Homo sapiens: one gene and its partner. The protein of the gene in region 1 purifies or fractionates together with the protein of each later gene. This does not show direct contact. Each region holds a gene or a part of one and is shown in the gene's direction. Other genes may lie near its edges.

Region 1 (7,625 bases):
CTCCCTTTCCCCAGGGCCTGTGCTTGAACCTGAGGCACTGCACACCCCCACACTCATGACCACACCCTCCCTAACTCCTTTCACCCCCAGCCTGGTCTTCACCTACCCCAGCACTCCTGAGCCTTGTGCCTCAGCTCATCGCAAGAGTAGCAGCAGCAGCGGAGACCCATCCTCTGACCCCCTTGGCTCTCCAACCCTCCTCGCTTTGTGAGGCGCCTGAGCCCTACTCCCTGCAGATGCCACCCTAGCCAATGTCTCCTCCCCTTCCCCCACCGGTCCAGCTGGCCTGGACAGTATCCCACATCCAACTCCAGCAACTTCTTCTCCATCCCTCTAATGAGACTGACCATATTGTGCTTCACAGTAGAGCCAGCTTGGGGCCACCAAAGCTGCCCACTGTTTCTCTTGAGCTGGCCTCTCTAGCACAATTTGCACTAAATCAGAGACAAAATATTTCCCATTTGTGCCAGAGGAATCCTGGCAGCCCAGAGACTTTGTAGATCCTTAGAGGTCCTCTGGAGCCCTAACCCCTTCCAGATCACTGCCACACTCTCCATCACCCTCTTCCTGTGATCCACCCAACCCTATCTCCTGACAGAAGGTGCCACTTTACCCACCTAGAACACTAACTCACCAGCCCCACTGCCAGCAGCAGCAGGTGATTGGACCAGGCCATTCTGCCGCCCCCTCCTGAACCGCACAGCTCAGGAGGCGCCCTTGGCTTCTGTGATGAGCTGATCTGCGGATCTCAGCTTTGAGAAGCCTTCAGCTCCAGGGAATCCAAGCCTCCACAGCGAGGGCAGCTGCTATTTATTTTCCTAAAGAGAGTATTTTTATACAAACCTACCAAAATGGAATAAAAGGCTTGAAGCTGTGGCCTGAGTGCCTCACTGGACCCAGAGGCCAATGGGAGAGTATTTGGAGCCCTAGGTCCCAGCCTTAGCTCTACAGACTCACTGCATGACCTTGGACAAATTCTTTGATATTTTTGGACTTTGTCTTATCTGACAAGTGGGGCTACATCCGCTCGGCCTCATCTCCGGGACTGAGGGGAGACAGTCCTCTGGGGTAAAAGCGAAGAGGCTTACCGCCCCTCTCCCCGTGGGGGCCCACAGTGCTGCTGCGTGTGCCACGGAGGGGCGCTGTTATGCCCCCTTCCAGCCTCAGAGGAGGCGGCCGAGTGGTTCTAGGCCCCCAGCACCTGCTTCCTGCCCCATTGTCTTGGACAGGAAGGAGCCGGGAAGGGAGCTGGAGCCACTTCAGGGGCTGGATTAAGGCCGGTCCCGGCGCCCGATGGGGGAAGTCTGGTTTACCACTGCCCCGCATCCCACCCCAGGCTCGAAGTAATGGGGGAATCATTAGTTCTGCAGTCCTTCTGGATGGGAATTGTACCCTGTATCAGCACCCCACCCTCGCCCCAACCCCGGCGAGTACCAAACAGACGCTGCCCAGGCCGTGGGCTCCGCTTCCGTCCGGGTTTATTACCCCCAATCCAACCCCCAGCAAGTCCCTCCGCTCCAGCCTTCAGTCCCCCTGCTGCCCTGCCAGCAAGAGCGAGGGGCCCTTCTTGGTGTCAGGATTTCTTAGTCCATGCCAGCGGCCCCTCCTGCGCAGCCAGGACGGCGTCCAGGTCCCGAGGTCCACAGCGGTCCCGGGGCTCGGGGAGCAATCCGGGCGGGCGTCGGCGTGGAGGAAGCAGTGCCTTCAATCATCGGGGGAACAGGCCAGGGGCAACTGATCCGGACTGCCCACGCTGCCAGTGCTGGAGCTTCCATCGCCTAGGTCGCGGGGCCCGCACGGGGGCAAGGCAAGCTCGGGTGCTGGCCCGGCTCCTGATCCCCCGGCGCCGCTGGGGCCGCCGCGGGGGCCCCATTCTTCGCCCAGCGCCAGGCAGAGCTCCTTAAGCGCTAGGTTCTCCCGCAGCAGCTCCTCCTGGCGGCCCTCCAGCTCGGCCAGCTTCTGCCAACAGCCGCCCAGGTCCTCGCGCACGGCCCGGGATGCTTGGGTCCCGAAGAGCTGCCACTGGCGTGCGGCGCGCCGCCCGCGCTGGCGCTCCGAGTCCAGGAAGCAGCAGAGGTCGCGCAGCTCACGGTTCTCTGCCTGCAGACGCCGGTTGAGCTGCTTGAGCTCGCGGATCTCGCCCAGGTGGCCCTGCAGCTGCCGATTCACCTCCTGCATGAGGCGGCCGCGCTGCACCAGTGCCGCCAGGCGCGCCGCCTCCTCCCGCCGCAGGCGCCGCACTAGCTCTTCCTTGCCTAGCGCCGCCATCTCCTCGTCCGTCAGCTCCTCCAGGCCGCCTGCCTCGGCCTCCATGGCTGGTCAGGCCTCTGGAGCATCGCCCGCCCGCCGCCGCGGCCCAGGAGCCCCACGTCGGGCCCGGCGCCACTCAGGCTCGGGCTCCGGCTCCGCACGCGGCAGGCAGTGGCCGAGGCAGCGTAGGCTGCAGCAGCTACCCGGGCTGGGCACGCGGCGGGGCGCGCGCCGGGGCGGGGCCGCATGTCGTTATGGAAGGACAGCCAATCCGGTGAAACGTCCCCGGAAAGGGGCGGGGCCTGAGCTCAGGGGCCGCCCCCCTCGTTCCCCACCCACTCCGGGTGTTACTGATCCTCGATGTCAAGGAACCCGCGCGTCATCGCCCTCCACATCGGTCTCAACCCGAAACTAGGAGCTTCGAACCTCCAAGTACCGGATCGCCCCAAGCTTGAGCCTAGGCCTCTCGGCTCTTCTGAGAAACAAGATTCAGGCGTCCGCCCCTGACTCCTGCCCATCCCCCACAGAAGTCAGATGGACCGCTCTCCAGTCCCTCTTTACCTTTGATCAAATTCGGAAGTCTCGGCCCACTAAGGATCGCTCCTGGTTCCTCGGAACCCTGAGTCCAAACGTCCTAGCTCACCAATAGACTACCCTCCCTCCCAGGGAGCGTTTCCTGCCTGGGGGGAGGAACATACAGGATTCGTTTGTTCAATAAACGTTTTTTATGTGCAAGGCCCATGCAGAAATAAATTTAACCAAAATACCGATTCCATCCTCAAGGAGGTCGCAGTCTGTCCGGGAAGTCAAGCTGTGTTAAGCAAGAAATAAATCCGGGAGGAGTATGGTCTGAGGGTCCTTAAGAGGGTTCCCAAAAGAGATGCTATCCAAGAGGCTCTGGTAGATCCATAGGACTTTGCCAAGTAAAGAGCTATTTCAGGGAGAGAGAATAACATAGTGAAAGACACTGGTGCCCGAAAGAGCCTAGCTGCTTTAGGAACAATGAGGATAGCTTGGTTTTTGAAAAGCAGATGTGTCGAGAAAATGCTAAGAGAGAGAGAGCGAGGCTTCAAAGGTAGGTAAAAGCCAGATTCTTAAGAACTTCCAGTACCAGGTTGGAGCATTTCCAAAGGCCACTAAGGATGTTAAGCAAGAGAGTAACATTTGTAAGGATGTTAAGCAAGGGAGTAACATTTTAAAATATGCCTTTAACTGGCCAAGATGGTGAAACCCCGTTTCTACTAAAAATACAAAAATTAGCCGGGCGTGGTGGGAGGAGCCTGTAATCTCAGCTACTCGGGAGGCTGAGGCAGAGAACTGCTTGAACCCGGGAGGCGGAGGTTGCAGTGAGCCGAGATCGCGCCACTGCACTCCAGCCTGGGCGACAGAGCGAGACGCTGTCTCGAAAAAAAAAATGTATTTAAAAAGATTGGGCTGATCTGTGTGGGCCGGACCCTGCGGGGAGGGGACATAAACAGGGAGATTAGTAACGGTGTCAAAGAGCAAGAGCAAGGAGAGCTAAGCAGAAAGACGGCTGGGGCAGCATCAGTGGGGGTGGAGAGGACAAACAGATACTAGAAATATTCGGGAGGCAAATCAGCCGAACTGAATGTGGGGAGAGAGGAGTCTGGAAGAACGCCCAGGTTTCTCGTATGAGAACTGGTGGATGTTAGGGCTGTCACTGAGATAGGGACGCAGGAAAGAAACAAATGGGGAGAGGCAGAGGTCTGTCTAGAATATGTTGAGCTTTTGAGGGGCTTACGGGAAGAGTGTGGATAGACTTGGCCGATAGGCGGCCCCTCCGGATGTGGACTTCCAGGCAGAGCTCGGAGGGGCAGAATTAGAGACGTCAGTAGCTCGTGGGGCTGGGGGTGGGATTAAAACCAAGGTGGGAGCAGGTGCCCCAAACCCAGGAGAGGTGCTCATGCGCAGGATGGACAAACCAGTCTCCAGCAAGAGCCCGAGGAAGTCGGGTCATACCCCATTTTTGCGGAGATTTAGGATAGAGCCCTGTGAAACCCCTAAGTTTAGGATACAGGTCAAACTTAGGAGGTCCCGAAGAGGGCAGAGAAGGTGGGAGAAAAGCCAGGAGGAAGTGAGGGGAGAAGTTACGGGGACCGAGGAGACGAAGAGGAGGCACTCCCTTCGTGCTCCTGCAGACGGCCGGGGAGGGAGACAGGACGCAGGAGCCCGGGACTCCCCCTCCCGGCGGGAGGAAGCGGTGCTCCTCCGCGCAGGCCTCCCCCTCTCTTCCCTCGCCGCTCCCGCCCCGTCCCCTCCCCGACTGGCTGTGTCCCGGAAGTGGTCATAAGCTGGGTCCCGATGCCGCGAGCGGAATCTCGGCGCTCCCGGAAGTGGCCTGAAGGCGGCGCGCCAGTCCCGAGCAGTGCTCGCTCCTGCTCGGGGCGCTGCGGCCCCGGGCGTCGCCATGACCAGTGAGCTGGACATCTTCGTGGGGAACACGACCCTTATCGACGAGGACGTGTATCGCCTCTGGCTCGATGGTTACTCGGGTCCGTGAGGGGCGTGTGGGGAAGCCAGTCGGCGGAGCGGTTGTGTTGAATGGGAGAGGGGGCGGGGCTAAGACTTGGGCATCCTTTAGGGAAGTGGGCGAGCGCCTGGGAATAAGAGGTGTTATAGGGGTCTGGGATGGAAACCCTTAAGGGCCTCTGGCGTCGGCGGGGCGGGGCCTGATGCTAGCGTCCGCTTTCCAGTGACCGACGCGGTGGCCCTGCGGGTGCGCTCGGGAATCCTGGAGCAGACTGGCGCCACGGCAGCGGTGCTGCAGAGCGACACCATGGACCATTACCGCACCTTCCACATGCTCGAGCGGCTGCTGCATGCGCCGCCCAAGCTACTGCACCAGCTCATCTTCCAGATTCCGCCCTCCCGGCAGGCACTACTCATCGAGAGGTGCTCACCCTCTGGGATGGTGGAGACATCAACCAGTCTGACTGTATACCCATTTTGCCGGCTGAAACAGGCCCAGGGAGGGATGGGATTTACCCAGCCATCAGAAAGTTGAGAGTGGAAGGGGTCAGACCTAGGCCCTGCTAGGCCCCGCCAGACTCCCTTTCCTGTCTTTTATGGAGGGTCAATGGTGTTCTCTGACTCCACAAGGTACTATGCCTTTGATGAGGCCTTTGTTCGGGAGGTGCTGGGCAAGAAGCTGTCCAAAGGCACCAAGAAAGACCTGGATGACATCAGCACCAAAACAGGCATCACCCTCAAGAGCTGCCGGAGACAGGTATGCACTGCATCCACACGGACACAGCATCCCATCTACACTTCACTCCCTCCCTTTGGCCACTGGCCCAGTTCCAGCCTCTGATTGTGGCAGCAGCTTCATACCTAGTCTTCTCCTCCCTTCCCCTTTCCCCTCCTTTTTTTTTTTTTTTTTCGAGATGGAGTCTTGCTCTGTGGCCCAAGCTGGAGTGCAGTGGCGCGACCTCAGCTCACTGCAACCTCCGCCTCCTGGGTTCAGGTAATTCTTGTGCCTCAGCCTCTGCAGTAGCTGAGATTACAGGCGCCCGCTCCCACACCCAGCTAATTTTTGTATTGTTAGTAGAGACAGGGTTTCACCATGTTGGCCAGGCTTGTCTTGAACTCCTGGCCTCAAGTGATCATCCGCCTCGGCCTCCCAAAGTGCTGACATTACAGGCGTGAGCCACCGTGCCTGGCTCCCTGTTGTGCCTTCCAAGCTATCCTGTACTGTATGGCCAGAGTGACCTTTCAGAATGACCTGAAATTTTATCAGACCCCTGATAAACTTTCATTGGCTCCCACTGCCTCCTGGGTAGCAGCTGCACTCCTTGGCTTTGACCTATGGACTGTCCTGTTATCTCATCCCTGCAGACCTCTCTAGGCTTACATTTCTCCAGCCCCAGGCTTTCCTTTACTCATGTTGCTTCTACCTGGAGGGTACTGTTCTTGGCAATATCTACCCCTTGAAATCCAAGACAAGAGGTGAGATGCCACCTTCTCCACAAGCCTTTTTGGTACGCCAGGAAGAAGTAACCCTTCTGGGTCTTTGATGCCTTTCTTTTGTATCTCCTGTGAGCTTTCTGTTTATAGCTTAGCATTTGTTTTTTATTTTTTAGTTTCTAGGGCTTAGCCAGGAAAGTCTCTTCCAACTCAAACTTGTGAAGATCTGGAGAGCATGGTGCTAAAATGGGGTTGGATTTAGAGATAAGATTGAGTAAACATTTATCCAAGGCAAGATACAGCAGGAGTTGCTAAGCATTTGATTTGATAACAAGTACTAATAACTAATAGTTGGTTGAAGGAATAACAAATGCTAAATCAGCATCTGCTGACTGGATAGGTGGATGGGGAAGGGAGAGATGTTCAATAAGTGGTTTATTGGGTGAGCGACACAGTGTACACTCTGACCAGTCCTCTCTTCTACCCTAACTGCCCTGCAGTTTGACAACTTTAAACGGGTCTTCAAGGTGGTAGAGGAAATGCGGGGCTCCCTGGTGGACAATATTCAGCAACACTTCCTCCTCTCTGACCGGTTGGCCAGGTGAGGAGCTAGCCACCTCCCCATCCCGCACACTACTTCCTGGGCCCGGAGGCTCGTCCACCTTCCCTACCCCAAACCTTCTGACCTCCTGAGTATGCTGGGGGAATGATTATCCCACTTTTGGTCTGTACTTTTTTTTTTTTTTTTTTTTTAATGAGACGGAGTTTCACTCTTGTTGCCCAGGCTGGAATGCAATGGTGCAATCTTGGCTCACTGCAACCTCTGCCTCCTGGTTCAAGCAATTCTGCCTCAGCCTCCCGAGTAGCTGGGATTACAGGCTTGAGCCACCGCACCCAGCTTGGTCTGTACTTTGGACCAGACTGACCTGGATTCAAAGCACAGTCCAGCGATTTCCAGCTGGGCTGTTGAGAGGTACCATATGTAAAGCCCATGGCACAGCCCTGGCACTTAGGAAGTGCTCAGTAGATAGTAACTGTTACCCTTATGGTCTCCCACTGTATCCACTAGTAAACTTGAGCTGGAACCTTCTCTTCGCACAGATGGGGAAGGGTCATAGAGAAGTGACTTGAGACACGTCACACAGTGACTTGAGGCAGAGAGAGGCCAGAACTCGGACACCCAGCTGAGGTTGCAGGTGGGAGCTGCTTCCTAAGAAGGAATTTCAAGCCCTAAGAGGACCCTCCTCTCGTCTGTGCAGGGACTATGCAGCCATCGTCTTCTTTGCTAACAACCGCTTTGAGACAGGGAAGAAAAAACTGCAGTATCTGAGCTTCGGTGACTTTGCCTTCTGCGCTGAGCTCATGATCCAAAACTGGACCCTTGGAGCCGTCGGTGAGGCCCCCACTGACCCAGGTGCCTGGACGCCTCCCCATCCTCAGGACCTGATTCC
Region 2 (7,283 bases), on another chromosome or scaffold:
ATGTTTAAAAGGTAAATAAATTATTAAATATATAGTTACAAGTTGGGATGGGTGCCATGAAAGGGAACAATAGAAAGAGAACAACAGGGAACACCTACTTTAGGTTGAGTAATCAGGGGAGGCCCCTGAGAAAAGTGTTTGTCAAAACCAAGATCTGCTGGATGAGAAGGAGCCTGCTGCTGAGGGAGCATATTTGTGTGTGTAGGGGAGTGGGTGGACAGAAGGTAACCCGGAGATCTCATGTAGAGATTTGGTGTGTTTTAAGAAGTGAAGGAAAATGCGTGTGGCTGGCACGTAGTCAGTGAAGGGAAGAGTAGTATAAGATAAAGTTGGAGAGTTAATCAAAGAACCAGTCTTGCAAGGACTAAGGCCATGATTAAGAGTTTGAATTTTACCCTAAATTCATTGAGAAGCCCTTGTTAAGATGAGCACTGTTATATGGAGAATGGATTGAAGGGGAAAGAGTAGAAATCAGGCAGTTAGGAGATTCTATAATAGTTCAAATAACAGGTAATGTTATCCAAGGTGATGGATTTGGTAATGCGGACAAGTGGATGAATTCCAGGTATATTTTGAAGATAGATTAAAAGATGACTCCTAGCTTTCTGAAGTATTGGGTTTTCTGATACTCCAGGGGGATGGTAAAGATTGAGGAGGATCATTTTCCATTTGAGCATGTTAGGTTTGTGATGTCTTTAGGGTCTTTAATTGGAGATGTTAAGGAAGTGATTTATGACTATGGCATTCAAAAAAAAGAGGTCTGAGTTAAAAATGAGCACACAAGCCAGTGTTTCTCAACTGTGAGACCCAGGACTCCCTTTAGATAGCTGGTATTTTGGAATCTACCCTTTCTATCCTGGCATGATATTTTTTAGTTAATATATCCTTACAATTAAAAAATCAGTACCACGGTTTAACTATAACAAATAGAAGTATTTGTTTTTGTTGTTATCATTATTATTTTTTTGAGATAGAGTCTTGCTCTTTCACCCAGGCTGGAGTGTAGTGGCACGATCTTGGCTCACTGCAACTTCCGTCACCTGGGTTCAAGCGATTGTCCTGCCTCAGCCTCCAGAGTAGCTGGGATTACAGGTGCTTGCCTCCGCGCCCAGCTAATTTTTGTATTTTTAGTAGCGACGGGGTTTCGCCATGTTGGCCAGGCTGGTCTTGAACTCCTGACCTCAGGTGATCCACCTGCCTTGGTCTCCCAAAGTGCTGGGATTACAGATGTGAGCCACCGCGCCTGGCCTGTTGTTATTATTTTAATATGGAAGTACTTTTTCATGACCATAATAGAAAACATGAAGTAATCAGATGAATCAATGAATTCAGCCTTTGTATGTATTAGACACTGTACTGGATGCTGGGGATATAGCAATAAATTTAAAAAAACTTCATTCACGGAACTTACATTTTAGTGGGAGGAGAGAGTTCATAAATAAGGTAAGTAAGTAAAAGATACAGTATGCTGGATGGTCTAGTTTTCTCTAGATTTTAGCATATACCAAAAATTACTTAAGAATAATATATGGAGAAAATAAAGCTGGGACACAGAATAGGGAGTGCCTCGCCTATGTTAAAACCACGTGAATGTGACTGCTTCTCAAACAGAGTGAGACAGTTGTGTAGTTTTGGCATCTCAGATCTTCATTGCCATTGGTTATCTGATTTTTCAAAATAGTCAACTCATGGGAAAAAGCAGAGTTGCCTCTTGATTTACATGATGGTTGTAGTTCTTGACAATTATGTACATTGAAACCCGATTGTAATACTTCTATCTGTAAAACTGAGGTTCTAGGTAGGGTTTTTTTTCTCTTTTTTTTTTTTTTTTTTGAGACGGAGCTTCGCTCTTGTTGCCCAGGTTGGAGTGCAATGGCGTGATCTCAGCTCACTGTAAACTCTGCCTCTCAGGTTCAAGCGATTCTCCTGCCTCAGCCTCCTGAGTAGCTGGGACTACCAGTGCACCACCATGCCTGGCTAATTTTTTGTATTTTTGTAGAGACAGGGTTTCACCATGTTGCCCAGACTGGTCTTGAACACCTGACCTCAGGTGATCCACCCACATTGGCCTCCCAAAGTGCGGGGATTACAGGCATGAGCCACCACACCTGGTCTTCTAGGTAGGTTTCTTACCCATGTGATTATCTAGTGGCACATTTGAAAATCATGACATGGTAAAAGTCTTCATTGTTGGGAACTCTCTTGCATTGAAGAATACCTGGCATCTCTGGCCCTTCCTCACTTAATGCAATTACTATTTTCCCCAAAACCACTGCTAGAAATGTCTAAAGCTTCTTTAGGAGTTGGAGTTGGTTCTGTCTTTTTTGCAAAGCTTTAGGAGTTGGTTCTGTCTTTTTTGCAAACCTGTGACTTAGGGGAAGGGAGAGAAACAGGATGAATCCTTGAAAAAACTTGATATTAAGAGGTTTATTAGAAGAGGAGGACTAGAGGAAGGAAACTGAGATTGTGAGCCAGTGGGTGGGAGAAAAATGGGGAACATAATGTCTTAGAAGGCAAGAGAGGAAGTTTCTAGAAAGAGGAAGGAAGCTCAATTGTCAGATGTCACTGAGGTCAAGTAAGAAGACAGAAAAATTATTGGATTGGACAACATGGGGGTTGTGACAAGAGGCATGATGAGGGTGGAATCCCATCCTGTAGTGATTTAAAGAGAAAGTACATGGGAAGTGAGGAAGTAGAAAGAGTATGAATAGGCAACTGTTTCAAGATGTATGGCTATGAAGGGGGGAGGAAAAATACTGTGGTGTTTGAGAAGTAGTTTTAGTACTTAAAAAATAAATGAAAAGATACAGAACCTATTTGTGTGCTAATAGGAATAATCCAGTAGAAAGGGGAAAAATTAATGCAGGAAAAGGGGGATAATGAAGGATTACAATATAATAAAGGGATAAATGCTTGATACAGACTTAAGTTCATAGAAGAGGGAGATAATGAAGCGTGGGCTTGTCATGAGAAACCTTTATCCTGGGCCTGGAGGATGGTAAAATTTACAAAGGCAGAGAGAAAAAGGAAGAAAAAATTTTCAGGTGACTAGGACAAACTTGATAAAAGCAAAAGAACAGAGTATGTATTGATGTAATTGAATGTATTTCAATTGAATGAATTTCATTCATATGTGATTGAAAGGAAGATTCTTGTTGAATAGAAGTGGGAAATAAATCTGGCTAGGAAAGGGGGATACAGATTACTGAGTAGTCCAAAAATTAGGAGGAGAGGTCAATACAGTTGAAGCTGTCTTAACAACCTCCGTTAAGTGACTCATTGCAATCCTCAGCGTTCTGCATCCTTCCATAAAGCGTATTCGTAAATACTCCTCTGGGTAAGACTACTCTCCAGTGTGTCTGGAGTTTCCCATCAGTTGGCTGATATACTTTACCAAGAGGCAGTTGTGTTTATTCCCAAATCTGCTTATGTCAACTGTATTTCTTACTATATTTTATTTAAACCTTATATAAATGAGTGAATGTAAAGACATGGAAATGGTTACTAAAAATAGCTCTTGAATTAGGTGGAGAAAAGACTGTAAAAAATAGAGGATTCTTTGTTCGTACTTTTTAAAGCAACCCAAACTGGAAATCAGAGATGAATGTGGCTTATGCAAAAAAAGATGACTAAACAGTTGACTTTTACACAAAGAAGAGGTCTTAGCCTTACATTAAAAGACAGGAATGAATGTTTGTTTATATGTTTTATCTTAAAATGTTTACAGTTTGTATTATTTTTAGTGATCCTCTAATTTAACCAAGTTATTTGATTAACTGATCAAGTATTGGTCCTGGTTGCATTGATTGAGAGAATTTCCACTATATATGACGTCAGGAGTGTAGGGACCCAGTGAAGACCAAATAATTCTTCAAGACGAGTAGTCTTGCAGGAATCTCTAGAGTAAGATGGGGTTCTGTACAAGCGAAGTATTAATGGAAATATATCTGAATGTTAATGTGTGTTACCAATTGTTTGGCTAAACTACATTGTCATCTTGTGTTTTTCTAGGAACCTTTGAGGGAACAGGGAGAGGAAAGTAAATATTTAATGAATATTTCCTATGTGCAGACATTTTGCTAGGTCTCTACATGTGTTATATCATGTAATGCTCACTTACAATCCCACTTTTCAGAGGAGGAAGCCAATTTAAATAACAGGTTAATAACTTTCTCAAGGTAATTTAGCTAATGAGTAGGTAAAGAGAATGCTTTACTTTACTGGGGGAAATCTCCATTAAAATCCCTGATGTTCTTTAACAGAGTTATAAGGCATTCATTTAATTGCTGAGTAATAAAATGTCCTTTTAATTAAATTAAGACTAAGTGAACCGAGATTCTTCTGTACTAGAGTGGAAATCATCCAATGTTGGCAAAATACACACTCCAGCCTTTTTCTTTTTGTTTCTTGTCCTTTATTTGTTTTCTTGTTTGAAAGACTGGGTCTTGCTCTGTTGCCCAGGCCTGAATGCAGCAGCCTTGAACTCCTGGCTTCAAGCTCCTCTTGCCTTAGCTTCTTGAGTAGCAGGGACTCCAGGCACGCACCACCCTGCCTGGCTGATGACTTTTCCTTTTTTCTAAAGTCTTTTTTGTTTGTTTAAAGCAGTTTGTGGACTATCGGATCTTTATTTAGAATGAACAGTTGCACAACAACAAAAAGGCACAGTATAGCACAACTGTTATAGTGGGACAAAACTGTAGAGTGCTCTAAACTTGTCACTTAAAAAATCATGTACTACTTTTGGCAGTTGAGCCAAAACCCTTAAGTATATTGCTTTTGAATGATTTTGAATGTTTTTATAAATCCTAACAGTATTTTACTTCATATAAAGCAGCTTTAGATAAATTAAACAATAAGTATTTCCATCATGCCTTGAATATTTAAATGGAATGAAAATTAAATTAGTAATTAAACAAGAACCTCTATTCTTCCTTTTTCCTCATTAAGTTTCATTTCTTTATCATTGTGATTAAAAAAATTATGCAAGTAATACTTGAATGCTCCCCATTAAAAAAGATTGAAACACTCAAATATAACTCGAAAACCCCTTACTTTCTTCTTACACCACTGTACTCTATTTCCTACACCCTATCAGTCCCTTCTTCAGAGATAATTGCTGTCAGTTCTTTGGCTTATGTTAATCTATTCTTCATCCTCTTAACAAATACTTGTATATCTATATCACATTTTTAGAAACAAATATAATCATACTTTATATATTCTGCTACTTGTTTTTTCAGTTATTGTGTAATATCTTCTAGTGACAGTACATATAGTCGACTCCATTATTTATAGGGCACATGATTTGTTCAGTCACTTTCCTGCTGAATGACTATATTTTTGGTGGGGAGGGCTTATGTGAAAGTACTTCTGTAGGTTAAATTCCTGGTAGCAAACCTAGGATTCTGTAATTTGAATGAAAATAAAGTTATTGCCATTTTTATTTTAATTTTTGATGTTTTTGAATTTTAAAATAATGCATTTAAAATAGGTAGTATTATGCATGGTTCAAAATTCAAAAGGTACAAAGTGAGTCAGCTTCTCTTTCACAGCCTCTCCTTTAACCAACCTCTTCTGCTGTTTGTAGTGGCCATTGTTACTATTTCTTGTATATACTTCTAGAAATAATGTGCGCATATACAGACATATAACTATTATATGAATTCTGTCTTTTTTTTTTTTGTGCTGAAGAATGCCATATATCTGCAGTAGAAAGATGTATCTTGGAAGTTGTTCCTTACCAGTGCATGGAGAACTGCTTTATTCTATTTAGTGCTACATTGTGTTGCTTTACCATAAATTTAATTAGTTCCATATTGACAGATATTTAACTTGTTTCCAAGCTTTTGCTACAGTAATGCTGCTGATATATGCCATTGTGTACCTCTGTGGGATAAATTCTAAGAAGTAGAATTGCTAGCTTAAAAGGGATTTAAGGCATTTAAAATTTTGATGTGTTTTCAAAGTCTCTGTAGAGATTGTTCTACAACTCCTACCAGCAAAGCATGACAGTACCGCACCAATTCTGTTTTCAAATCTTTTGGTCTTTGCCAGCCTGATAAGTAAAAATATTTTAGTTTGCATTTCTCTTAGTATGAATGAGGTTGATCATCTTTTGATGTGGTTAAAGACAGCTGTATTTCCATTTCTGTGACTTACCTGATCATATCCTTTGCCTATTTTTTCTATTGGGTTGTTGATCTTTTATTGCTCTCTATATGCTCTTTAGAAACGGAGGAAGTTAGTTCTTTGTGATGTGTGGAGCTGGTCAAGCAGAGCAATGGGTGATTGCTTGTTGTGGGTATTATTATTAGTCTACAATCTTACCTGGATCCATCTGTACCTTCTTCCCTTTGTCCCAGAGGATAATAGTCTTTTGTCCCCTTTATGGTTTATCCTTCTATTGGTTGGCTGACATTAAAATTTACTTTTATTCACATTTTTGATATTCATATGTGAATAATTTCTTATTTGTTTTTAGGTAAAATTTGGTAATACCACCTTTAAAACAGATGTGTACCTTAAGTCACTCAACCCTCAGTGGAACTCGGAGTGGTTTAAATTTGAGGTAAGTTTTTAAATGTCAGCATTTTTGAGTGTATTTTTTTGAGGTGACTCTTTTCCCTCAGGAATAATGAGAACCTTTTATTTCAGGCATAGTAGTATTTCTACATCACAAAAATATTTTCTTTTCTGCTTACCTAGGAATATTGAGTCTAAAAAAAGTTGTATTACATTTAAGAAAATACAGTATATGATAACACATTAACAAAAGAAGTCTTCAGATGTATTATATTATTATTATTGTAGTTTTCTCTAGATTTTAGCACATACCAAAAATTACTTAAGAATAATATATGGATTAAAATAAATTTTTAAAAATTGTAGTACTATATATTGTGAATATTGCCATTTAAATCATTTGTAAGTGTACAGTTTGGTAGCATTAATTACATTCACAGTGTTTTGCTACCATCACCGCTATTTCCAGAACTTTTTCTTTATCCTAAATGGAAATTGTGTACTCACTAACCAATAACTTCCCATTCCCTCCTCTCCCTAGACTCTGGTGACCTCTAATCTACTTTCTGTCTCTTTGAATTTGCTTATGCTAGATATTTCATATAAATGGAGTCATATAATACTTGTCCTGTTGTATCTGCTTTCTTTTACTCAGCATAATGTTTTCAGGGTTCATCCACACTGTAACATGTATCAGAATTTTATTCCTTCTTATGGCTGAATAATAACCCATTGTATGTGTATGCCACATTTTATTTTCT

Evidence for each region.
Region 2: the proteins of FIBP (region 1) and C2CD5 purify together in Homo sapiens (affinity purification with mass spectrometry; 5 studies listed by BioGRID and IntAct, with this or other methods). This does not show direct contact.

Annotation. Positions count from the first base shown.
Region 1 is NC_000011.10:65,885,472-65,893,096, reverse strand, and holds the start of FIBP (acidic fibroblast growth factor intracellular-binding protein), read left to right. Parts: upstream 1-4,625; 5' UTR 4,626-4,678; coding exon 4,679-4,763; intron 4,764-4,964; coding exon 4,965-5,163; intron 5,164-5,370; coding exon 5,371-5,497; intron 5,498-6,674; coding exon 6,675-6,775; intron 6,776-7,433; coding exon 7,434-7,567; coding exon of another isoform or gene 7,568-7,588; intron 7,589-7,625. Other genes in the region: FOSL1 (fos-related antigen 1), read left to right, coding at 1-211; CCDC85B (coiled-coil domain-containing protein 85B), read right to left, coding at 1,705-2,313. UniProt on the Homo sapiens protein: May be involved in mitogenic function of FGF1. May mediate with IER2 FGF-signaling in the establishment of laterality in the embryo.
Region 2 is NC_000012.12:22,534,543-22,541,825, reverse strand, and holds part of C2CD5 (C2 domain-containing protein 5), read left to right. Parts: intron 1-6,481; coding exon 6,482-6,568; intron 6,569-7,283. UniProt on the Homo sapiens protein: Required for insulin-stimulated glucose transport and glucose transporter SLC2A4/GLUT4 translocation from intracellular glucose storage vesicle (GSV) to the plasma membrane (PM) in adipocytes.